6 separate regions of the Homo sapiens genome follow, and all the other regions are linked to region 4. The links come from fine-mapping of genetic effects on plasma protein levels. A gene starts in region 4. Each other region holds a variant in brackets. All regions are shown on one strand. Distances are between the middles of the regions. Region 1 overlaps PLB1 (phospholipase B1). Region 2 overlaps PLB1 (phospholipase B1). Region 3 overlaps PLB1 (phospholipase B1). Region 4 holds the start of PLB1 (phospholipase B1). Region 5 has its middle 35 kb from the start of PLB1. Region 6 overlaps PLB1 (phospholipase B1).

The links. PIP is the chance, under the fine-mapping model, that this variant and not a neighbour inherited with it causes the effect. Protein levels are from antibody-based Olink assays in UK Biobank. Linkage for the fine-mapping came from a reference panel and not from the study's own genotypes, which makes the PIPs less certain.
Region 1: its variant is fine-mapped to the plasma level of the PLB1 protein (UK Biobank, PIP above 0.99). The variant lies in the coding sequence of PLB1. If it changes the protein, the assay may bind it differently, which can mimic a change of level.
Region 2: its variant is fine-mapped to the plasma level of the PLB1 protein (UK Biobank, PIP 0.99). The variant lies in the coding sequence of PLB1. If it changes the protein, the assay may bind it differently, which can mimic a change of level.
Region 3: its variant is fine-mapped to the plasma level of the PLB1 protein (UK Biobank, PIP above 0.99).
Region 5: its variant is fine-mapped to the plasma level of the PLB1 protein (UK Biobank, PIP above 0.99).
Region 6: its variant is fine-mapped to the plasma level of the PLB1 protein (UK Biobank, PIP above 0.99).

Annotation. Positions count from the first base shown.
Region 1 is chr2:28,536,658-28,540,745 of GRCh38, forward strand. PLB1 (phospholipase B1) reads left to right here. Exons shown (of 58, transcript NM_153021.5): 10 at 1,662-1,724; 11 at 2,442-2,521; 12 at 3,709-3,784. Among named protein-coding and RNA genes, the nearest start is that of PLB1, 43 kb to the left of the region's middle. RefSeq lists a silencer at 2,565-2,859. The variant G/C (reference allele first, on the strand shown) is at 2,457.
Region 2 is chr2:28,577,835-28,581,922 of GRCh38, forward strand. It overlaps PLB1 (phospholipase B1), which reads left to right. Exons shown (of 58, transcript NM_153021.5): 22 at 273-324; 23 at 1,793-1,873. Among named protein-coding and RNA genes, the nearest start is that of PLB1, 84 kb to the left of the region's middle. The variant C/T (reference allele first, on the strand shown) is at 1,843.
Region 3 is chr2:28,614,057-28,618,144 of GRCh38, forward strand. It overlaps PLB1 (phospholipase B1), which reads left to right. Exons shown (of 58, transcript NM_153021.5): 44 at 1-40; 45 at 3,671-3,731. Among named protein-coding and RNA genes, the nearest start is that of PLB1, 120 kb to the left of the region's middle. The variant G/A (reference allele first, on the strand shown) is at 1,887.
Region 4 is chr2:28,493,686-28,497,773 of GRCh38, forward strand. It overlaps PLB1 (phospholipase B1), which reads left to right and starts at 2,375. Exons shown (of 58, transcript NM_153021.5): 1 at 2,375-2,484. The coding sequence starts at 2,430.
Region 5 is chr2:28,458,867-28,462,954 of GRCh38, forward strand. It overlaps the pseudogene SNRPGP7. Among named protein-coding and RNA genes, the nearest start is that of PLB1, 35 kb to the right of the region's middle. The variant G/A (reference allele first, on the strand shown) is at 1,854.
Region 6 is chr2:28,593,213-28,597,300 of GRCh38, forward strand. PLB1 (phospholipase B1) reads left to right here. Exons shown (of 58, transcript NM_153021.5): 33 at 469-542. Among named protein-coding and RNA genes, the nearest start is that of PLB1, 99 kb to the left of the region's middle. RefSeq lists an enhancer at 3,550-3,844. The variant C/T (reference allele first, on the strand shown) is at 1,791.

The DNA of each region.
Region 1 (4,088 bases), 43 kb after region 4:
AGGGGGCAAACGATACACATGGAAATGTACAAGTTCATTTGAAGAAATCAGCTTTTTCCTGACTTTGGGTTCTAGGAGTTTATTATGTATGACCTTATAGAGGAGGGACATCTTATAGGAGCATAATGTCTTTTACTGAGAAATGGGGACAGTTGGTGTCCCGAGCGACAACCATGCAGTGCCTGGAATGACTGGGTGGGCCCCAATTCCCTCTGCAGCTGCAAGTAAACACCTTGACCAGGGGTTTCTACAGCAAGATTCACACTCTAGAGAGAGCCACACAGGGTCCCCCGCCTCTCCAGGGACGGTGGGTATGGTTCAGATGGGCAGCGAGGATGCCTCTAGACAGAGTTCCCCTGGGCTCTTCAGGAAAGAGAGGGTGATGTTTGATGTCACGGTCAGGGAGCAGCTCACTTAGGAGAAAACTAGACAGAAGGCTTTACGGTAACAGACCTGGCTGACCCGGCCTCCCAGAAGCCAGCCTCACACCAAAGCAGGGACAGCCGGTGAAGGGGCAGAGAAACAGGGACACTGCATTTCCTCCTGTGTGGTGCCAGCCCAGGTGATTGACAGCTGTCTCCAGAGTCACTGCCTGTGTCCCCTCCGGGAAACAGAACAGCTCCTTGGCCTTCCTTGTCTTCCTGTCTGAGCCAAGTTGCCTTAGGGGACAGCCAGTCTGCTGTTTGTTAGGGGACAAACTTAGAAGTTTGTCTTGTAATTTTTATTATTTTTCACATTGAAAAGGTAAAGCAGGCATGAGCCACTGCACCCAGCCTGTAATCCAGCACTTTGGGAGGCCGAGGTAGGTGGATCATTTGAGGTCAGGAGTTTGAGACCAGCCTGGCCAACATGGTGAAACCCTGTCTCTACTAAAAATACAAAAATTAGCTGGGCATGGTGGCGGGCGCCTGTAATCCCAGCTACTCAGGAGGTGGAGGTTGCACTGAGCCGAGATCACACCACTGCACTCCAACCTGGGCAAAAGAGCGAGACTCCATCTCAAAAAAAAAAAAAAAAAAAAAAAGGTAAAGCAGGGTCCGTTTTTGAGGTCCTTCATTTGTTGATTTTCATGACCTGCAGGAAGGGGAGTGGTGTGTGTGTTGGGTGCGTGGGAGATGTCTTTAAATACTCAGGTGGCAGGACCCACTCATACTCTTTCTCTAGGAATGCTTATCTTAGGGCAAACACAGCAAGAGAAAAGCTAATAAAATAGGATCACATGAAGGTTCCGAGGCCCATCTGGGGCCTTAAATACAGGGTTAATTGTATTTCCCTGTTGGACCTGATTTTCTTTGGGAAAAAGCGATTCCTCAAGTCTTTGGGAGTAAGTCTCCTGTCCCTCAGTGTGAGCTTCAGAATCACACCAGGTATTTCTGATCTTGCTCTGACTTTGAGTTTGCCCTTTCCTGATGGAACTTTTCACCTGTGGGGAGTTTGGTTTTTCCCAGGTGGATGATGGGTTGGGGAGAAAATAGAAGAACAAAATGAAGACAAAACTAGGAAGCTCTGGGAATTCTGTCCTCCTTTGTGGAATGCCAGGTCTAGATGGTGCCTTTGCCTGTGGTCTTGCCTGGCAGGGATGGGCCTGTTGTGAGTCTGGGTGGCCTCACCTCGTGGTCCTCCTGCAGGCACCCTCACTTAGCACGGTTCTCCTCTCACAGAATGGGCTTGCGGCGGGCGGCGTGGATGAGCTGATGGGGGTGCTGGACTACCTGCAGCAGGAGGTGAGGCCACGGGCCTAGGGCTTCCCCAAGGGCAGTGGGGCCCATTTACCCTCATGTGGCCTCCACCGGGGTGGGGAAATGGACCCCTGTGAGGGAGACTGGGACCCTCGGGAAAGGGGAAACTTTAGAGCACCCCATCTTCTCATCCTTTCAAATGAGAACATGGGCCAGGAGAGCACACTCCACTCCTGCAAAGGAAACTTCTGAGAGAAACTCGGCTCTTCCTTGAGTCCTCGGTGGCCCTGCTCTTCCCTAAGGCCTCTCTCTACCTGAGACTGGGGCGAGGATAAGATGGAGGGGGCCTGAGGACCTTCAAGACCTTTCTGCTCAGTGACCGTGATGCTGCTGCAGGGTCTGAGAATCAGCTGGGGGTTGCTGTGGCCCTGCCTTCCGCTTTGCTCCCCTGGAGGGCAGCTTTCTGCTGGAGGAGGCTGCAGGCCCATAGCCCCAGTGGTCTCCCTCCCCTGTGGACACTGGTGGGAGGCGCCCCGCCCACCGTGAGGGACAGAGAGTCCTGTTTCTGGATGGCACAGATGCAGGGCTGGCAGCGCAGACTGACCCTGACCAAACATCTCCCAAAGGATCAGGCCCAGTTAACCAAGGGGAGGCCCATCACACTCAACCACACCCCAACGGGGCCCAAGCAGGAGTTCCAGAAAGCCCGGCAGCCATGGCGACTTGGCAAATACTCACCTCCCTCTCTGTGTGTCCTCCTAGGTCCCCAGAGCATTT[G/C]TAAACCTGGTGGACCTCTCTGAGGTTGCAGAGGTCTCTCGTCAGTATCACGGCACTTGGCTCAGGTAAAAGGGGAAGTGGAATGAGACACGCATCTGTGACACGGCTGTCACGTGTGCGGCCTGTGGGGGCCCTTCATGTGCCGTAATCTATGAGGGAGCCCTAAAGAACAGAGGCCAAAGGAGGCCGAGAAACACATGCGAGCTCACACCCGAGCGAGTGGCAGAGTCGGGGTGGGGTGGGCCCTCTGCCAAGCATTGTTTTGGGGACTGAGTCAAAGAATAAAATACTTTATTCTTTTATTCTGGTTGATGTTGTGCCAGAGGCTCTCCTCAGTGCCAGAGTGATTTCAGAGTTCGCCTTGGCAAAACATCCATAAGCTAAGAAGTGTTACTTCTGGAAATTGGATAGAAAAACGTAGCCTAAATGTAGTTTAACTTCACAGAACTTGATTCCTATATATTTCTGAAAATGTTCATAGACTTTAAACTTTTTGGAGCCAAATCCTAAGAATTCTGGCTCTGGACCTAGAAAAGAAGTTCATGTGGAAAAAGTCAGGGCAAGGGCGGTGGAGAAAAGAGAGTGCTGGAAAGGAGAGAAGTGGGGTGCTGGGGAAGGAGGGCTCTGAAGAGGATGCAAGACAGAGAAGGTACAGGGGAGGGAAAGGGGAATGGGATGTGGGTGTCTGGTGTGAAGAACAGTGAGCGGGGAGGAGGAGGACTGAGAGATGAAGGGGGAGAAAGAGCTTCCCTCTATCCCATAGTCACCCCCTAGGAAGAGCTTTCCTCCATTCCATATCTACCCCCCAGGAAAAGCTTCCCTCTATCCCATAGCCACCCTCCAGGGAGAGCTTCCCTCCATCCCATACCCACCCCCCAGGGAGAGCTTCCCTCCATCCCATACCTACCCCCCAGGGAGAGCTTCCCTCCATCCCATACCTACCCCCTAACCCATACCCACCCCCTAGGGAGAGCTTCCCTCCATCCCATATCGACCCCCTAGGAAGAACGTCCCTCCATCCAATACCCACCCCCCAGGAACAGCTTCCCTCCATCCCATACCCAACCCCCAAGAAGGGACCACCCACCCTCTATTCTTCTCAACATTTATGTCCTCTAAGACTTATGCTTCTTCATCCCTACTCCTTAAGCAACTCCTATGCCCCTTCTTCCATAAGAGGCGGGCTGGATGCATCCCCTTCCCTGCCCACACTGCCTCCCCTCTCTCATTCCTGGTGTGTTTTAACCTGCAGCCCTGCACCAGAGCCCTGTAATTGCTCAGAGGAGACCACCCGGCTGGCCAAGGTGGTGATGCAGTGGTCTTATCAGGTGAGCCCAACCTGGGATCCCAAGCTGCTGGCTCACCGGGGTGGCGTGGTCGCCAAGGAGAACAGGAGTGATAGGGACAATTAGTTGAGTTTGCTAATGTTAGGACTTCTCCAGCTGAATTCAGGACTAAGTCAGGAGCAAAGAGAGCTACTCTTGCTTCACATCGTGGTAGTGATTTCAGTATTCCTGCATATAAAATGGGGCCTGCAGGACTGGTAGGGGTGCGAGTTGGGGGACAGTGGGGGTACTTGAGGCAAAAGATAGTGAGGAACTTCGAAGATTCATTCTGGAATGCTTTTGGTCA
Region 2 (4,088 bases), 84 kb after region 4:
ATCTCAGGGGAAACAAAAAGGAAAATAGTCACACTGAGAATCACCCCCTCCTACGTGCAGTGCTCTGGCCTTCCCAAGCACAGTCACCACCCCACACCCCCGCAGTGGAGCCTGAATGGGGAAGAAGCTCTGCGACACGGCCTTCAGTCCATTTTCCTGCAGGAGGCCCACCCTGGGCCTTCCTCCACCATACATTTGATTGCTGTTCTCTCTGCTAAGGGCCCCTGCCAGTCCCCACTCCTCACAGCACTTCCTCTGGTATGTTTCCACAGGGATCTACCTGTCCAGGCCAGGAGGCTGGTGGACCTGATGAAGAATGACACGGTGGGTCCCTGGGATGGGAAGTAGGCAGGAAAAATCCCTGGACACAGAGAAGATCAGCTGTGGATTGAGGGATGGTTGGGAGCCCGGCTTGGGTTTCTAGCAGACACATCTGAAGCCTAAAACACTGCTTCTCTGGAAAGGGGATTCCTATTTGTTCAGTCAGTTGGCTGTTGAAATTAAACATCTACTGTGAGTCAGGCATCAGGCTGGGGCTGCAGATGCACAAAAGAATACAACACAGTCCTGTCCTCAAGGAGCTTGGAAGCGGAGACCAATGTGAAGAATCAAATTATAAAACAGTTGCCACGTGCTCCACCGAAAGGGCTCTGTATAAGACACGGTGGGGTGCAGAAGGGACCGGCGCCTCTGCTTAGGACAGTCAGGGAAGGCTTGAAAAGGAGATTTTGGCTGTTATTCTGGGCACATGGCCTACGGGAGAGCCCTGGTCTGCAAGGAGCAGTACCAAAAAATAAAAGTAGAGGAGATGTTTGAGCCGGGTTCTGAAAGATGAATATGCAGCTCTCCCTCAAATGAAAGCACGGTCTCAATTCAGAGGCTTTTTGCAGGGGTTTCTAGGTGGGTAAAATAAAAAGGAAGATTAGGATGAGTTATGTTATATATAATTTAATGTACATCAAAGTCTATTATTGGGAGGTTCTCAGGGTATTTCTACCCTTAATGTCAAACTTTCCTGGATCTTGTTCTCACCTTCCTCCTTCCACGCTCTTTTGGAAGTGTAGATCAGGGAAGCAAAGCTATGTAGGCCTGGGGCAATATAAGAGGCTTGCAGGGCCGTGGCTGCCCTGGGGCCATAGTTTATGGAATGTGTATGGCTGCACCCTCTCCACACAGCCCTGTGACTTCATATGCTTTTCCAGGTCCTCTTTGGAGGAGACAGATCCCAGAGGTGGCAAAATCTTTTCAGAGCTTGTGCTTAGAGCTGCCACCTTACCCTACTCAGCCTCTCTGGCTTGACTAGTTCATGGGCAGAACTAGTCACCAGTGTGAGTATTCCAAATTTGGAGAGCTCCCTCTTAATGAAAGATGGTCTTTCTCCCTTAAGGCACAATTAGAATTCAGGATTTCTAGAAGATTCTGGAACAAACATTCCTTTCCCATGGCCAAAACCAGCTTCCTTATCCCTTCCCCACTTCCTTGCTATGCTGGAGATGGAGGAACAGAGCTCAGAGGGCATCTGTATCCACTCCCACCAGGACACGTGGAAACTGACGTGTGTGCTTTTGTGTGTGGACAGAGCCACATGCAAGTTCAGTGATTCCACCTAAAATAAATGAACCATTTAGCACCTATGATCTCAGGACCCTAAAAGCAAGGAACAGAAAATTCAGAAGTCCATGAGACACTCTGGTGTGTGAGGACCCATCTTTTCTAGTTTGCAAGCATTTTGTGTTTTCCTTGACTTGACTCTGGGACAAGGTGCTTACTTCTGTGTTTCTATTCATTTCAGAGGATACACTTTCAGGAAGACTGGAAGATAATAACCCTGTTTATAGGCGG[C/T]AATGACCTCTGTGATTTCTGCAATGATCTGGTAGGTCTCCAGGCACTTTACTCAAGACTCACCCCCAGAGAAGGATTTTCACAGCCCGGTCACTTGCTCTGCCCGGGAGGAGTACAGCTAAGTTGGGACTCAGGCTCATGGTTTGTCTTGGATCCAGCCTGGGATGAACCCTGAGACTGAGAAGGCATTCACCTCCAGGGAACCATTCAGCTGGGCAAGCAGGATTAGTTATAAGATTGATCCTGATTAAGTTTCCTATCAAGGGAGCTTGATCATATCATTCTAGAAAGCAAGATAACACCCAATGACTAGAAAAATCTTTCCCATGTTCACAGAGAGTCACAGGTTAGCTCCCTTCCCCAGTCTCCAGCAGCCTTGCCCTTTCCACCTTTGTGCTGTCACTTGTATGGGAAGGTCGATTTCCTGCAGGCATTTGGGCAAGCTTCAGAGCCAAGTCATTCTGGGCTGGTGGGAAACCCAAGATCAAGGCTGCTGCTCCATGGATGCTGCGTGTCCTCCTGGAACCTCAGTCTCTGAGCTGATAGAAGCCTGACAGGGCATACCCACTAGTCTCCCACCCACGCCTATGCCAGGAATGTACTAGGAGCAAGGCAGTGGTGAAGGAAACACAGGCCCTGTCCTCAGGAACTTGCACTGCCAGCGGAGAGAGAGACAGGCAGTTCATCACAGCACAAAGCAGACATCAGGATGTTGTTGTAGGGATACACACAGAAGAGAGGTCTAAAAGCAAAGTTGGCTGGGTGTGGTGGCTCACACCTGTAATCCCAGCACTTCGGGAGGCCGAGGCAGGCAGATTACCTGAGGTCAGGAGTTCAAGATCAGCCTGGCCAACATGGTGAAACCCTGTCTCTACAAAAATACAAAAATTAGCTGGTTGTGATGGCAAGTGCTTGTAGTCCCAGCTACTTGGGAGGCTGAGGCGGAAGAATCGCTTGAACCCAGGTGGCAGAGGTTGCAGTGAGCTGAGATCATGCCACTGCACTCCAGCCTGGGTGACAAAGCGAGACTCCATCTCAAAAAAAAAAAAAGCAAAGTTGCTGTGGGACCCTGGTGTGTGGGAAAGGGGGTTGTTGGAGAGATTTACACAGAGCAGGAGACTTTCCAGCTCAGGCTTGAAGATGAGGAGGTTTGTCAGACAGAAAGGGGACCAGCAGAGTGAGGTTTAGGAAGTAGTGGCCTTGCTCTGGCCTGTGAGCACCTACCTGGAGGGATGCCCCAGCCCCCAGGCCCCTCACAACCCACTTTCTTGGCATCAAAGTCACCAGGAGTCAGGAGTTTTCAAGCTGTGATCTGAAGGGCCCAGAGGGGAGCCTTGGGGCTGCTGGTAGCCCGTGGGGAGGTGGGACCCTGGGCCCCTCCCCTGCTCATGTTAAGTGACACAGCTTTCATATGTTCCATACAGCAGGGCTTTTGGTTAGATTTCAATCAGAGAAAGAGTTCCACTGCTGAGAAAGCTTTAAAACCGCAAATATCGAGATCAGGAGAAACAGTTAAAATGTGTTTAGGCTTGGTGTGGCCGGTGTTTCACAGGACGCTCTTCCCCTCTTCCCCTCCCATTATTGCCTTGATTTATGTAGGGTGTGCTTTCATACATGTAGGGTGTGCTCAGTAGCCCCAGACACTGAGGCTCCAAGAAAAAGAGATCGGGCCATAGGACAGAGGCTGCTCAGATTGCAGGAGATCTTAGAGTCATCTGCTCGGACATCCCCATGTTAGAGGGGCCTGGAGATGTGATGCTTTGGCTCTACAGTTAGTGGATATGGAGTAGATCCAGAGCTCCACGCAAAAAAATAAATAAATAAATAAATAAATAAATAAATAAATAAATAAATAAATAAAATTAAAAAAAGAGGCATAGGCATTTCCCTGAGGGCCACAGCCATGACAAACCTGAGGATCATGGGGCTGGTGTCCAGGCTGGGGCCCCAAAGACAAACACTATTTCAATATTGCCCACTGTGACTGAATACAGAAAGAAGGGGACTCTGGCCAGGTGCGGTGGCTCATACCTGTAATCCCAGCACTTTGGGAGGCTGAGGTGGATGGATCACTTGAGCCCAGGACCAGCCTGGGCAACATGGGGAAACCCCATCTCTACCAAAAAATACAAAAATTAGCCAGGTGTGGTGGCACGCACCCATGGTCCCAGTTACTTGGGAGGCTGAGGTGGGAGGATTGCTTGAGCCCAGGAGGTGAAGGTTGCAGTGAGCCATGATCACACCAC
Region 3 (4,088 bases), 120 kb after region 4:
GAATAGTAACTACACGTACCCCATCAAGCCAGCCATTGAGGTAACCCCTGACTCACATCTGCCTCTCTCAGACACAAACCATTTCCACCTGCCAGGGGCTCGGGTGTGGTACAGGTTTCAGAGTATTCACTGAAGCAGAAATGTACTTCTTACATACTGGGGATTGGAATGTACAGAAAAGGCTCCCGGACCACGAAGCCCCAGGATTGTCCTAACATGTTCTCAAGTTGCTTACCTGACGTCAGCCCCCAAGCAGAGGAAGTGTCTATGGATCGATTTTCTTTGACCTTGGCAATCCTGGGCTCACAGACGTGGTTACTGCTTAGGCAGCTCAGCCTCTCAAGAGGGAGAGGCAGCTGGTGTGATGTGGCGTTGACTTCTTGGAAGGTGGAGGCTGAGTGGGAGGGAACTACAATTCTGGGGATGGGACCCAAAAGGAAGTGGAGGCACGTTCATGTTCCTGTGGGCCCCTAGGCCTTGTTTGGTTCAAGTCAATCATTCTAGTGCTGAGGATTCAGAGCCCATGGTTAATTCCATTGGATTAACCATGTCTGTGAGCCTAGGACGGCCACTGCAAAGACGGCCTGGAGGACCCCGGACTATACCATGACTGGCAGTCAGGCCTGGTCCGGATCAGGTCTGTTGGTCACCAGGATGGGGTTTGACCCGCAGTTTCAGTTTCACACCTATATTATATCCAGTCTCATGTTAGGGGCTAGAAGGCATGCAGAGAAGTATCGAACATGGTCCGGACCAAGGGAAGTGAGAGCCCAGTAGAATTTCACAATTATTGAGCACATACTATGTGCCAGACACTATTCCAGGAAGACAGAAATGTTAACCAGACAGATGGATCCCGGCCCTCACGTAGCTTACAATCTACTGAGAAAGGTGTCTTATATACATGGCTAGGCATGGTCATTTCAGATAGTGATGACAGCTCTGAGGAGCGTGATGGGGCTGGGGCAAGGGAGGCAAATTCAGGTGCACCATGCAGGCCAGGCCTTCCTGAGGTGAGATTTAAACTGAGACATGCATAATGAGGAGACACTTGCTATACAGGGAGCCAGGAACACAGTCCCAGGCAGAAGGACCATGGACCACACAGGCTCAGAAGTGGGACTGTGTTGGGTGTATTTGGGGAAGAGAAAGAAGGTCAGAGTGGCTGGGGGCATGAGAATGAGGTGGAGAGTGGGGGAAATGAGATCAGGAGTGCCAAGGAGCCAGATCACACAAAGCCTGAATTACTGAGTAAAACCACTGGATTTCAAGTGGAGAAAGATGGGAAGGCATTGGCGGTCTCAGGAGAGAGTGACATGATCTGGTTCACGTCTTTCAAAGATCTCCCTGACTGCTATGTGTAGAATGGGTTGGCCATCAGCAGGAGTGATTGGGGAAAGACATTTTATAAGCCAGCTGAAGAAACTAACCCATATGAAATCATTAAGAACTATTGGATGCTAAGCTCTGGGGTGCAAGCAATACCAGATTGCTGGCTGCGGGTTATGCTGTGTCCAGCCTCTCTGAATTTTCTCAGGCTCACGTTAGCCCAGTGGAGGCTTGTCCTCATTGAACCAGTGACCAAATTCCCTGAGAATTGAAATGTCAGCTGCATCTTGTGAATCAGGCATTTCTTCATTTATTCATTTACCTATTGGATGCCTATGTAGAGTGGGCACTGCACTAAGTGCTCGGTAGACAGTGGTGAGCCGAATGGGTCTGGATCTGCCCTCTTGGTTCTTCAGTCTCATGCATCTTTGCTTTTGCTGCTGGAAGAGCTAAAAATCCCAGAGCTAGAAGGGCGTGTGTTTGTTTTAACAGCTTTCTACTCAAAGTAACCACAGAAACAAAATTCTGTCATCTGAGGTAACGTGAATGAGCCTAGA[G/A]GACATTACGTTAAGTGAAATAAGTCAGGCACAGAAAGACAAATACTACATGTTCTCACCATATGCGGAAGCTTAAGAAGTTGACTTCACAGAAGTAGAGTATAAATAGTGGTTATTAGAGGCTGGGAAGGGTGGATGGTGGTTGGGGAGTAGAGATAGCAGAAATTGATTAACAGAAAATTACAGCTATATAGGAAGGAGAATTTCTAGTGTTTTATAGCACAGTAGGGTGACTATAGTTAACAGTTTACCATATATTTTCAAATAGCTAGAACAGCAGATTTTGAATGTTCCCAACACAAAGAAATGGTAAATATTTGAAGTGAGGGATAGGCTAATTACCCTGATTTGATCACTGCACATTGTAGAGATGTATCAAAATATCACACTATGCCTCATAAGTATGTACACTTAATATGTCAATTAAAAATAATAAAAGCAAAACTAATAAAGTGGCCACAAAGAGGCTTTACCTGGGAGCTTTTTAGAAATGCAGAGTCCTGGGCACCACCCCAAACCTGCTGAATCAGAATCTGCAGCTTAAGATCTTCAGGGGATTTGGATGCACTGATTTTGGGTGTGGTGCATGGTTCTTCCCTTGTGACGGATGAGCACGTTTCAATTCCAACCAGGATCTGTTAATCTACATGGAATATGCTTATCTCTGGTTCACCAACTATCTGAGATATATCTCATGTGCTGATGGCTGAATAACTTTTTACGTTGCATTTTCTGTGAGTATTTGTCATCTGCACACAAGCATGCTCTTGAGTTCATTAAACCTTTAAACAGAAGAAATCCATCAGAATGATGAATTGAGCAATCCCTTGGGAAAAAACCAAATTCCATAGGATTAAGCAAATAATATTTAAAAGAAGTTCCATTTTTGCTCTCTCATGATAGGAATATTTCAACAAGTCTTATCTTCATCATCTGACTGAACAGATGAGATGAGTTTTCATAGCATCTGGCAGTCAGACTCCTGGACAGTCAATCTGCTGGTCAAGCCCTACTCCATACTCAGTATGCATATATTTGAGACTTTGGGAAGATACTCAATTTTCCCCCAGATTTCTGGTACTAATCATTTCTATGCCCTCTGCTTCCCATCCCACTCCTTTCCCCAGCACCTGGAAAATATGTTCTGTATTAGAGACAAAGAAAATTGACTAAAAGCATCCAGGGTTGCTTACATCAATTTAAAAACATATAAGGAATAAGGCTGTTAAGTTAAATATGCAAAAAGACATACAGGTATCCAGAAAAGACAGGCAGAAACCAGGAGCTTTACAATTTTAAAATATTTTGTGTTATTATTCTAAAAATATTTTAATTATTGTCTAGGTTCTACCATTATAATTAGTGTCAGTTAGCTTAATTTTATAAAACACACATACCTGTAATCTCATGTTAGGCATCCAAATGCTGTGTTCCTTTGGGAGACCCACCTGTGTAGGACTTCATGGTTTTCTTCCCTGCTTTGGGGCAGCCACTGGCTCCATTCAAAGCATAGATATATGGGGATAAGAAAGGTGGTGTGTGGGTGCACATGTGGAGACATGCACTATGGGTTGTGCATAGGGGTAGCTAGACACACCCATTTCTCCCCCTTTAATTTCCCTCCTAGCCCACCTATAACTCACAGTTCTTTCCCTCACATGATCCTGTATGGTGACTCATTTCTAGCCTCCATCAAAAATCCCTTAGCTGGTTCTTCTTGGGCTGAAGCTTATCTCCCTGCACAATGAGTGTTGGGCACTGAATCTTTTCTCCTGTTGATTTAGAACTGGGGCAGTGACTTCCTGTGTACAGAGTGGAAGGCTTCCAATAGTGTTCCAACCTCTGGTGAGTGAAAACATCATCATCTCCTTCAATTAAGGGCCTTGCCGAATATCAGGTTGTGGGGAGACCCTGCAAACATACCCTGGAGCTTTAAGCAGGACTTGCTAATTCCCCTGCAGTGCAGACCTAGATCCTGCGGCCTGCCGCCACAGCTGGGCTTCCATGTGGAGGTGCACAGAGCTCTCCATTGGATGCTACTTCTTGTCTCCTTATAGTCCCAGTGGCAGTCCCTTAGGCCTCCCTGCCCAGTGAGGCAGGTAGAGTCAGGGATTGGGATCTACCTGCCTGTGCTACATGACCCTGCAGCTGGAACTTTCCTGGACCACCCCAATGTCAATCAGGCTCTTCTGAGGGTGGATG
Region 4 (4,088 bases):
GAACAAAAGTTTATGGACAAGTGATGGAGCCTTTGACTTCAGACGACTTTCCCCTTGTTTTCATAGCTGCTACTAGACCACATAAATAGTAGGTGCCAGTTAAGCTGCGATGCTGTAAGGGTGCCAAGAGGCTGGGCGACGTGGCTCATGCCTGTAAACGCGGCACTTTGGGAGGCCAAGGTGGGAGGATTGATTGAGCCCAAGAGTTCAAGACCAGCCTGGGCAGTATAGTGAGACCTCATCTCTGTTTTTCAAAAAAATTTTTAAAAAGAGTGTCTAAGAAATGTTGCTTCCCCTACAGCCTCACAGTTGGTGAGGATTCCTTGATGCATGGATGGAACTCAGAGATTTATTCTACCTAAAAGGACATCCAGTCTATCCCATACCAAAATGCCTTCCCAACATTCAAATGTTTTTAAGGCATTTCTCAATTTTTCTAAATGTGAAAGGAGTTAGAGGAAGGATGGTAACCCAGTTGGGCTGTGGTAGTCCTGGAGAGAAGCAGTTAAGAGATGGAGCGAGTACCTGGAGCGTGGAACCAACTTACTTCTGCGCATGCCCCATGTCCTTTCCACCCCACCTCCAGCTGGCCTGCACATGAGTGGGGACCTTGGCCTATTCAGCCCAGGCAAGTTCAGTGATGCTCCTCAAAGCTGCTGGTGGCATGGAGCTGGGTAAACTCCTGACATCCTTAGTGGGACAGCAGCTCTGGCTTCTCATTGAACTTGGGGGCAGTTTGGTGAAGTTGACAAGTGTCTACATATCCAGGGGCATCTGTGCTCACTTGTCCCCCACAGACCTTGGCCTTGGGTGTATTTTCTTCTTCCTTTTCTGTGTGTCTGTGTGTGCTGCCCTCTTCTAGGCTCTGGAACTAGCTGATGGCCAGCTGGACTAAGTGTGTCAGTGTCCACACACCTCTGGCATGTCCCAATACCCCCCTACAGTCCTGAGGCTTAGGCTAAGCCTTTGGCATTGGCTAAATCAGTGGTGACCCACAAGTCACATATTTTCTGAGCAGTTGAGAAAGGGAGACAACATCCTAAAACCAGAGATTCAGGAACAAAGGGCCACTCACTTCGTCTTCACTTTCTACTCAAGACAATAGAGGTTATAACAGTAATTAAAAACAATTTTTTTTTAATTGAGATGGAATCTTGCTCTTGTCCAGGCTGGAGTGCAGTGGTGCAATCATAGCTCACTGCAACCTTGAACTCTTGGGCTCAAGCAATCCTCTTGCCTCAGCCTCCCAAGTACCTGGGACTACAGGTGCATGCCACCATGCCTGGCTAATTTATTTTTATTTTTTGTAGAGATGGAGTTGCCCAGGCTGGTTTTCAAACTCCTGGGTTCAAATAATCCTCCTTCTTTAGCCTTCCAAAGTGCTGGGATCACAGGTGTGAGCCACTGTGTCTGGCTGTGATTTTTAAATATGAGAAAAGTGGGTCAGCCAGGAGATCAGAATCTGAGGTTGGGTCATGGGAACCAGCCCTAGAGTCTTAGCTAGACCTCAGAAGTCAGGATCCCAGCCTCACACCCACAAGCATGGCCAGAAAGCAAGGATAATTTAAATATATTTGTTCCTATCAACCAAGGCAATTGTTTCTTGATATTTGTGTAAAAAATTTAAATTCTACTCTCAAGGGTATTTGTCACTCAGGCTTTAAATGCCAGCTTTGTCTGCCCAGTTTAGACCCAGCCTGCATTCCTGACTTAGTTTACCCAAAGGAAACGGCTGATTTTGTCAAACTTGGTTCCCCCTCTCTGGCTTGTATCTCTGAATTCAACATGCAGACAACAAATCTATGGTGTGCACATCCACCCAACACAACTGGCCACCCATGGGTTTGGAGATGGGGGGAACAGAACAAACCTCTCTGTGTCATGCAAACCAGGGAACCTAGCAGAGCTTCTGAGACACGGTGGGAACACGTTTCACATTTGGAGGTAGGTTTATGGTTTACATTTGTTACAAGGTACTTTTGATCTCCTGGCTTACAACTGAGAAAGCTGAGGCCACGTTAAGGGATACACCCAAGTTCCCACAGCTGTGGTTGATTTGGAATTCCGACCAGCACCTGGGATTCCCAGGCCCACGTTCTTCCCAGCAGACCCGAACACCGGCAATTTCTGGGCACCCACCATCATGGAAGGCTGTATGGAGGCAGCTATGCGGCCCTGGTCTGTCAGTGTCTATGACTAGAACATGCTACCCATCATTGACTCATCTGCCTTAAGAACTCTTCCGCCTAAGTGTTAATATTTATCATTTACAGCCCGCCACTACCCCCTTTCAAAGGTGAACACAGTAAAATTTATGACAGGTGCTCTATCAGAACACAGAGGAACATAAAAGCAGGAGGAGGTGTGATAGCCCATCCATCTGCTGGAGCAGCTCTTCCAGAGGCCCGAGTCACCTGGAGCATTCTGGCATGGGGCTGCGGCCAGGCATTTTCCTCCTGGAGCTGCTGCTGCTTCTGGGGCAAGGTAAGCGTGCCTTTTGCTCAGAGGACAACCAGTGGTTTAGCCCCGCTGGTGTCCCATGTTGCTTAGGCAATGGGTGTGTGAGAGGAGTGTGTGCTTTTGAAGAGATAAAGCACAAAGCGTACAGTTCAAGAATAAGAAGTCTGGTTTGCCTCCTGCGGAATGGGATGCAGAGGCTGCCTACACAGGGTTACATGTCCCAAAGGCTGCCGGGAGCGAGGCAGATCTTGGGACAGGAGAGAAGTGCAGTCCGGTAGCAGTACCATGGTACAAAAAAAACCCCTGGATTCTATTTGTTTGTGCTTTGTGGCTTTGGGCAAGTTCTTCCACCTCCCTGGACCTTGATTTTTTTCATCCTTAAAATGGAAATACTACTACTATGCACATTTTGATCATTACTATTACCATTTATGAGCTTTGTTTTGTTTTTGAAGGACAAAGGAAGACAGATTTCCAGATGATAAATTCTAAAAGATTGCCTACATTCTTTAGTGCTGCTAAACAGAGTGCTGAGCTTTCATTGAACTGAGTGGGCAACCAGCCAGGGCTTTCCATTCCCCCCAACATTAATGACTGTGGGTAGATTGTGCCTCTGCCACAATCCCTCTCTGCCCCTCTTCTTCCCATCATTGGCTCTCCCTTTGCTTAGGAAGGCAGAATCTTTTAAACTGAAAAGGGCCTTAAAGATCTTTCATCTTCTCCAGATGAGAGGACGGGGTCTGGAGTGAGAAGGCACTTGCCCTTGACTCCCCAGAGAGAGTGGAGGAGGCATGGGACAGAGTCCTGGGCCTGCCTAGGGTCTGAGCCCATGCTTGAGGCTTCTCTGGGGCAAGTCAGTTACCGCTCTGAGCCGTGGGGGAGAATGACGATGCTTGCTATGCCTTCTGCACAGGATGATTGTATTTCTTTGATTACTGATGAGGCCAAGGAGTGTTTTCATAGAGATTGTTTGAGTTTCTCTTTTGTGAAGTGCCTGTTGAAGTCTTTTTCCTATTGATTTTTTAGGAGTTCTCCATATATGCTGTGTACTAGCTCTTTGGAGGTTACATATATGACAAATATCTTGTTCCACTCTGAAGCTTGTCCTCCTATGGGGACTTTTGATGAGCAAAATTCTTAATTTTGTGTAAATAAATGTAGACTACCCAAATGAGGACAAACAGAGGCTACTTATTCAGAGCTCGCTGTAGCGAGACATCACTTATGTTTGGCCAAGATTCAAAGGCAGGCAGGGGAGTGGGAAAGTTTCACAGTGGAAAAAAGGGAAATCTTCAGATCTGCTCTGGTTGGAGGTTGTTGGTATCAGGGACCAGCTGACTAGAGGCACGGCATCTGAAGTTATCCAGTTGGGAGTGTATCTGGCTTTCTCTGAGGGGTCCTGAGTTGGAAGCAGAGCAAAAAATAGAGAAGATGGCAGTCATTAACCAAACCTGACCATTCTGGGCTGATTGCTGCAGAGGCTGCAGTTTGGTTCTCTGGCCTGGCCGATTGCAGACTGTGGCTCAGAGTTCTGTTATCATATGTGGTCCCACCGTTGTCCATTTGTATATTCTCTATTTTTTTTTTTTTTGAGACAGAGTCTGGCTGTGTCACCCAGGCTGGAGTGC
Region 5 (4,088 bases), 35 kb before region 4:
TCTCAGAGGGTGGAGGGTGGGAGGAGGGAGAGGATCAGGAAAAATAACGAATGGGTACTAGGCTTAATACCTGGTTGATAACATAATCTGTACAACAAACCCCCATGACACATGTTGACCTAAGTTACAAACCTGCACATGTACCTGTAATTAAAAGTTAAAAAAAATAAAGAATTCTGGAAATGGATGATGGTGTTGGTTGCCCAGCATTGTGGGTGTAGTTAACACCGCTGAACTGTACACTTAAAAATGGTTAAAATGGTAAATTTTATGTTATGGCTATGTCAATCTAAAGAAAGAAATGGAGGCAAAATTAATATAAAGAGTTTATTTGGGCCAAGGTTAAGGACTATAGCTCAGGACACACTTCCAAGTTGTCTTGGCAATGCTCTGTTTGGCCTCTGCTACAAGCAGGTTATTTTGTTTTTTTCTGTTTTTTGTTTTTTGAGACGGAGTCTCGCTCTGTCGCCCAGGCTGGAGTACAGTGGCACGATTTCGGTTCACTGCAACCTCTGCCTCCCGGGTTCAAGTGATTCTCCTGACTCAGCCTCCCGAGTAGCTGGGACTACAGGTGTGCACCACCACGCCCGGCTAATTTTTGTATCTTTAGTAGAGATGGGGTTTCACTATGTTGACCAGGCTGGTCTTGAACTCCCGACTTCAGGTGATCCGCCCGCCTTGGCTTTCCAAAGTGCTGGGATTACAGGCATGAGCCACTGCGCCTGGCCACAAGCAGGGTTTTAAAAGTTAAAGGGGGCGGGTGCTCAGGAGGCTGAGGCAGCTTGAGCCCAGGAGTTTGAGTCTAGCCTGGGTGACATAGCAAGACCTTGTCTCTTAAAAAACTTTTTTAATTGCTTAAACATTTTAGTCAAAAAGGCAAAAGGAGACAATGAGTGGGCTGATAAAAAGTTGTTTGTCAGGAATTCTCATTGGTTAATGGAAATAACATTGATTAGTAATTGGCTATACATTGTTGAACTATAGGGTAAGAGTTATGGCATCCAGAGTGTGTGGCATTTTATAGCTACTTGGTGTCAGTTAGTCTTAGAGCCCACATAGCAAGGGGCTGTAAGACATAATTATTTAGCCCAAGATGGTGGAGAGGATGAGATGTGGCATGCTGTCACTTTTCTTATTTTTTTAACTATTACAAAAGTTTATTTAACAAAAAGTCTAATATGAAAATTTTCATGACCTAATTTTTACATCATAGTGAAATGGACCCTTTGGAGAGGGGACATGAAAGTCTCCGTTGAACAGCCACTATTTACACTTGTTCCAAGGCTTCTGACATGATGATACTATTTCCTCATCTTACCAGCATTGCAATATTGTTCTGTTGCTCGCTAGTTGCCATCTCCACACATTCATCTATCACAAGGTTCATAAAGGGATAAATCCTCGCAGCATTCCTTGGACATGTCTGCCACCGTTTAATTTCAGTGATAACTTCTTGTCCATAATTTTTTTCAGCTTGTGAGGGTGAGCTTTGCCACCTGTTCTGCAGTCTCACAGATGCCTTGAAACGGAATGTGATGTTGTTACTTTTCATTGCCTCTCTGGGCCTGATAACTAAAGAGCGTGCAGATAAAAAGGTTCTCTTCTTTCTCATATATTTTGCTACAATAAAAAAAAATTTTTAGGCCAGGGCAGTGTGACTCATGCCTGTAATCCTAGCATTTTGGGAAGCTGAGGTGGGTGGATCACCTGAGGTCAGGAGTCGAGACCAGCCTGGCCAACATGGTGAAACCCCATCTCTACTAAAAATACAAAAATTAGCTAGGCATGGTGGTGCATACCTGTAATTTCAGCTACTTGGGAGGCTGAGGCAGGAGAATCGTTGAACCCGGGGG[G/A]CGGAGGTTGCGGTGAGCAGAGGTTGCTCCACTGCACTCCAGCCTGGGTGAAAGAGTGAGACTCTGTCTCGAAAATAGTATGCCTGTGATCCCAGCTACTTGGGGGTTGAGGCATGAGGATTGCTTGAACCTGGGAGGTCAAGGCTGCAGGGACCTCCACCTGCCTATATCTTACGCCTTGTAAACTAAGATCATGCCACTGTACTCCAGTCTGGGTCACAAAGTGAGACCCTGTCTCAAAAAAAAAAAGACCCATTCATTCGTTCATTCAACAATTGCTTAATTGAATATGAAGGCAGTAAGTGTTAAGAAGAAAAACAGAGCAAGATAGGAAATGTGTGCTCTATTGCTATTTTATTTTGAGTAGCTAGGAAACATTTCATTGATGAGGCATCATTTGAACAGAGAACTGAGGGAGTGAGTCCTGTAGTTACCAGAGAAGATACCAGGACAAATGTAAAGTCCCTGAGGCAGGTACATGGTGTCTTTGAGGAACAGCAAGGAAACCAAGGTGGCCAGATCACAGCAAGAGAAGGAGGAAGTGTATAAAGAGGGGAAGATCAGAGAAGTATCTGGGTCCACATCACCCGGGGCCTTTGTAGACTGTGCTAAGGACTCGTTTCTTTTCCTTGATAAGGTAGAAGGCCAGTGGAGAGTGTTGAGCAAAGAGTGAAAAACTGGCATAGGTGTTAAAAGGTTTCCTTGGCTGCTATGTGGAAAATCACCAGTACAGTACCAGGAGTAGAAATAGGAGATCAGGGCTGAGTGTGGCAGCTCACACCTGTAATCCCAGCACTTTGGGAGGGCGAGTCAGGAGACCAGCCTGGGCAACATACTGAGACCCCACCTCTACAAAATAAAATAAAATAAAATAAATAGGAGATCAATGAGTAGGCTATTGCAGCAATCCAGGTGTATTCAAAACTCTTCTAGAAATAAGAAAAAAAAAAACAAAACAGTGGCTTGGACCAGGAAGACAAAGAAAGGCAGAAAAAATGGTCAGATTCTGAATACATTTTAATTTGAAGGTAGAAACAAGAATCCTTGTTGGGGTGTAAGAAAAAGAATGAATGCCATGGTTTTTGCCTGGGAACCATTAAGCCGGTGTTTCCATCACCAAGACAGGCAAGTCTATGGGAAAAAGCAGGTTTAGGTGGGTCAGAGTGGGAATCAGGATTTTTGTATTGACCTAGCTTTTTACTGTTTCCCACACTCTTCCTTTGTTTCTAATGATCCACATTTGTCTTCTGTATTGTTGCCTTTCAGCCTGAGAACTTTCTTAAGCATTTCTTGTAGTGAAGATGCTAATGGTGAATTCTTTTAGTTTTCTTGTTTTTGGGGAAATTTCTTTGTTTTACCTTCATTTTTGAAGGATATTTCATAAATCTGGGTTTGAAAAACTGGCTTCTGCCCTCCATGGTTTCTGATGAGAAGTCACCAGTGATTTGATTTTTTTTCCACCCCATGTGTAACATATCTTTTTTCTTGGGCTGTGTCAAGATTTCCTCTTTATCTTTGATTTTTAGCAGTTGGACTATGATGTGCCTAAGGGAGATTTTCTTTGTATTTATCCTACTTGAGGTATGCTGGGTTTCTTGAGTCTGTAAATGCATGTCTTTCACCAAATAAGGGGAAATTTTAGCCATTGTTTCTTCAAATATTTTCTCTTCTTTTATCCTGTAGTCTTTCTTTTTTCCTTCTGGGGTTTCATTTCACATGTTAAACATTTTGATACTGTTTTTACAGGCTCTTGAGGCTCTGTGTTTTTGTTGTTGTTGTTTGTTTTCAATCTTTGTTCTCTTTGTTGTGATTGGATACTTTTTGTACTGATCTGATTTCAAGGTTGTTGACTCCTTTATTATCTGAACACTGTTGTTAAGCCAAACTGGTGAATCTTTTATTTCAAACATTATCTTTTCCAGTTCTAGAATTTCTATTTAGTTTTCCTCTAAATCAAGTTTCTCTGCTGAGGTTTCCTATCTTTTTATTTGTTGTACATGTATCATCCTCAGCTTGCAAAGCATAGTTATAATAGCTACTTGAGAATTATGATTTTGTTAATTCCAATATCTAGGTCATCTCAGGGTCAGTCTCTGTTGATTGTCTTGTCTCTTAAAAATGGATCACATTTTCCCTGTTCTTCATATATGAAATAATTTGGATATTCTGAACATTATGATTGTTAAGTTGTGGAGACTCTGGATTCTGTTATTTCCCCTAACTGCTGATTTTTTT
Region 6 (4,088 bases), 100 kb after region 4:
CCTTGAGAATACCTTACAGAATGCCCCAGAGGGAAAGAGGAGAAATGTGAGACTTAGGAGAGATCTGTCCACTGCAGTCGCTTAAGCCAATGAGCTCTCTCTTCATGCTCATAAAGAACGTAGGGGCATAACGCTGGGAACGACATTATTAACACTCTCTCACGTTTGTAAAACACTTGAGAGTTTTCAAAGTGGTTTTTACAACTGTAATCCAATTTGATCCCCAAAACACTCCCTGTGAGATGAGCAGGGCGTGTCCTCAGCTCAGCGAGGAGGCAGCTAAGAGTTGGGGAAGGCACACAGCTGGAGAGGAGGATGGCAGACTTAGAGCCAGGGGCTCCTGGTTCCATGTCTGCTCCTGCCACCACGAGTGCATTGGGAACCCCCTCTTTGGAAGCCCTGTGCATTCACAGCCTCCCTGTTCTCTGACTTGCTAATTTTCCTATGGACTCTGGTATATTTTCAAAGGCTGGCAATGGAATTGGCTCCAAACCAGACGACCTCCCCGATGTCACCACACAGTATCGGGGACTGTCATACAGGTAATGTTAACCTTTGACCTCTCCCAGCGTTCCCCCCACAACAGAGATTAGGTGTGGCTTTGTCTCCTGTAAATATGTAAATCCCAGAGGTCGAAGACTTGGTCTGGAAGGGGCTTTCAGAAAGAAAAAGCTATATATTTCTGCAAAATGTGAACATTTGGTGAGTGGAGAGGATATTTTACTGTTGATAATCTTTTTTTTTTTTTTGATTGTGCAGAGAAAGTAAACCAGGGTTCTTATCAGACTCCTGGGTCAGCAAATCCAACAGGAAATGCACCAGAAAAGCACCAAATCCCTGAATCTTCACCTCCCCGCTTGCATGTATACGTGTACACGTGGTGTTCCTACGTCTCTGTTTACTGTCTTTATGTGTTTATTCATGTTGTCTTGTAGTCACACAGCTGCCTTTACATATATGTACACATCTGCACAGAAAACCTCTGAAACCCATCGCACACTTCGAGAGGCCATAACCAAGACACAATCACAATCAGCCATGTCTTGAAAGATTAGCAATTCGACAAGAGGAAAGGGTGAGAAAGGGCATCCCGAACACGGAAGTGGAGAAGCTCAGGGTGTGTCAGGCGAGCGGTTGCGTGTAGATATTCTCAAGTTTCTTTCTCTCCTAATAAAGTTCTCATTCCTGTAGGCTTCAAAGTAAGTGGCGAGTAGCTCAGAATTTACCTGGGAAAACAACTAGAACGAAGCTGGCCACAAGGGGGCAGCGTGCTAATGAGTGGCGGAGCCAGGACAGCACCTTTGCTGCCGCCTCCCTTTTCTTCTGAGTCAGTTTGCTTCCTGGGGAAGTGACAGGGAGCAGGGAGGGGGTGATCAAGACTGTGAAGGTTCTCTGGCCAGACCTGAGCAGAGTCCCAGAGAGGATGGGTTTCCAGGGCGAGAGGGAGGCGCCATCACTCGGCCTGTACCACCCACAACGAGGACCTAGGTTGTCCTTAGCATGAGGACATCAACCTCTCAAGAACAGAGGTCAGTGCCTTCCTGCGCCAAGGTCCCTGCGTTTCCACAAGTCCTTGGTCAGGTACCTGGTCCTAACAGGCTGCCATGGAACAAATCAGAGCCTCACTGACTCACCATTCTGCTCCTAATGAGGCTACAAGAAAAAAAACCAGAGGAGAGAAAGCAGAGCTTATTACAATCAGGAAAGAGCATGAGGTTCTGGCAGCTGCACTTGGTCTCAGCTAAAGAAGGCAATGACCTCATACGATAGCATGGGAAACAAAAATCAAG[C/T]AGACGAACCACATTGCAGGTGATAGATACGCGACGTGCACCTGGTGGGGCAGCCTGGGGAAGTGAGGTGATGTGCCCTACTTTAAAACAGATCGACCAGCTGGGCTCCTGGGATTCAGATATGAACCAGCAGTCCTCTACTAAAAGTTTCTTTCTGCAGCGATGGGAAAATTCAGCCATTGCTCTGTTTCTTCCAACAAGTGAAGTCCATTACAGCCTAATGTCTCAATCTTTTAGTTCTAGCTCTAAGGCCTCAGGTTCAATGGCTGCTGTCCCTTTAAACCCTTCATTTGTCCTAAATGTTTCAAATAGCTGCCCCCAAATGCACGTGTGTTAAAGATGGAAGCTCTAGGTCGGGGTCTGAGAGACAGCTTGACACTTGGTAGAATACATAGACTACTGTGTCTCAAAGTGTGTTCCATGGAACATTAACTCCAGACCTGTTCCTGGAGAAGAGAAAATCCTTTGTATCTGAGGGGGAAACATTACCATAACCTTCCTTTGGGGAATTCATGTGTGTATTAGCATATTAAAGGCTCTCATAAGGCCTGCAATGCAGAAATCTATTTAAGTTTTATCTGTTTAACCCAATGTTTCCCTTAATTCCAGAACATTTTCTTTGTTCATAACACCTGTTAACACCTCCTGAAAGTGTTCACGTAGTAGACTTATCTGAGAAAAGCAATTTTTGAGCCGTTAAAGCTTCTAGATTGGACAAACTAGGCAATTAATGATACTAGATCAATTCAGAATGCAATTTGAGCCTCTTCCCCCTGGGAAACAAAGTGAAAAGAGTGGATCTCATGGAATTAGGGGAGAAGTAGACCCAGAATTCATGGGGGGTGGGTGGCTGTGAACAGGACCTGCAGAAGAGGCTCGGCTGTGAATATTTCCAAGGCCCCTTGACCTGTGAGATTCTGTAGTGAACGGTTCCAGCTTTGGCCAGCTTAACAATGTGCTGGGCCCCAAGGTCTTGAGAGCATTGCCTTTTCTTCCATTGAAATAAGTTCGCTTGTTTGGGACCATTCAAAGGATCAAAATAAAATTTACTTACCAAAAAAGTTGCCTTTGTTTTATTAACTAGGGGGTCAATCTCATATGACTGAAACTCCTTCAACAAATGTTACTGAGCATCTACTCTATTTTTCTGTACACTTTAGGTGACAACAGATGACCAGAGCCCAGCCATTGAGCTCTGTAACATAAATTGAGTGTAACATAAATGATATCCATCTGAAGGGTCTAAGGTGGACTAGCTGTTTGATATGGGTCTACTTCCTTTCACGTTTCATGGTTCTGATCAAAATGAGAGTTTGAATATTTTTGCGCTTTTGTGTTTATTTGTCATAATCCTTTTCTTCTGGAAGTTTTCACTTTAAAATGGAAGTCAGGGAGAGATTTTCATAGCCTGTTGGTCTTGATTAGCCACCATACTTGTTTTAAAATGAAGATACCTTTAAACAAGAAATTACAGTAGGAAGTACTTGATGCGTTTGTGTTTGTGTGTCTATGTTTATATCTTTATTGAAGGAGAAAAGGAGGCAGAATTAGAACACAAGTGATTGGCAGAGGTATATAAATTTATACTTCTTTTCAAATGTAAAATATTCTGATTGGGTGCCTTTAGTCCAGAAAAAGAAGGATTAGAAAGCAACAGCTTCATGCAGAGCTGGAAAAGAATCAGACGCTTAAACAAACGCCCATCCACGAGCAAGTTAGGCTCAGACATCTAACGGAAGGGTGGGGAGCGAGAACTGAGTGAAGGAGAAGGGTAAGATTTACGGCATCTGCCTTCTCTCTACCACCTGAATTGCTTGCAGAGCCTCTGACTTAAGTCCTTGACCACTCTGGCATGCAATAGTCCACTTCATTCCAAGCATTCCTTGAATGAAGAACAACTATGACTCATGGCCTGTCCCTTAGAAGTCTTTGCTGGTGGGCTGGAAGCTAAGGCCACGTTCTTAAAATCCATTGGCCTGGGCCAGGCGCGGTGGCTCACGCCTGTAATCCCAGCACTTTGGGAGGCTGAGGCGGGCGAATCATGAGGTCAGGAGATCGAGACCATCCTGGCTAACACGGTGGAACCCCATCTCTACTAAAAAACAGAAAAAATTAGCTGGGCATGGTGGCGGGTACCTGTAGTCCCAGCTACTCGGGAGGCTGAGGCAGGAGAATGGCATGAACCCGGGAGGCGGAGCTTGCATTGAGTGGAGATCACACCACTGCACTCCAGCCTGGGCGACAGAGCAAGACTCCGTCTCGAAAAAAAAAAAAAAAAAAATCCATTGACCTGGAATA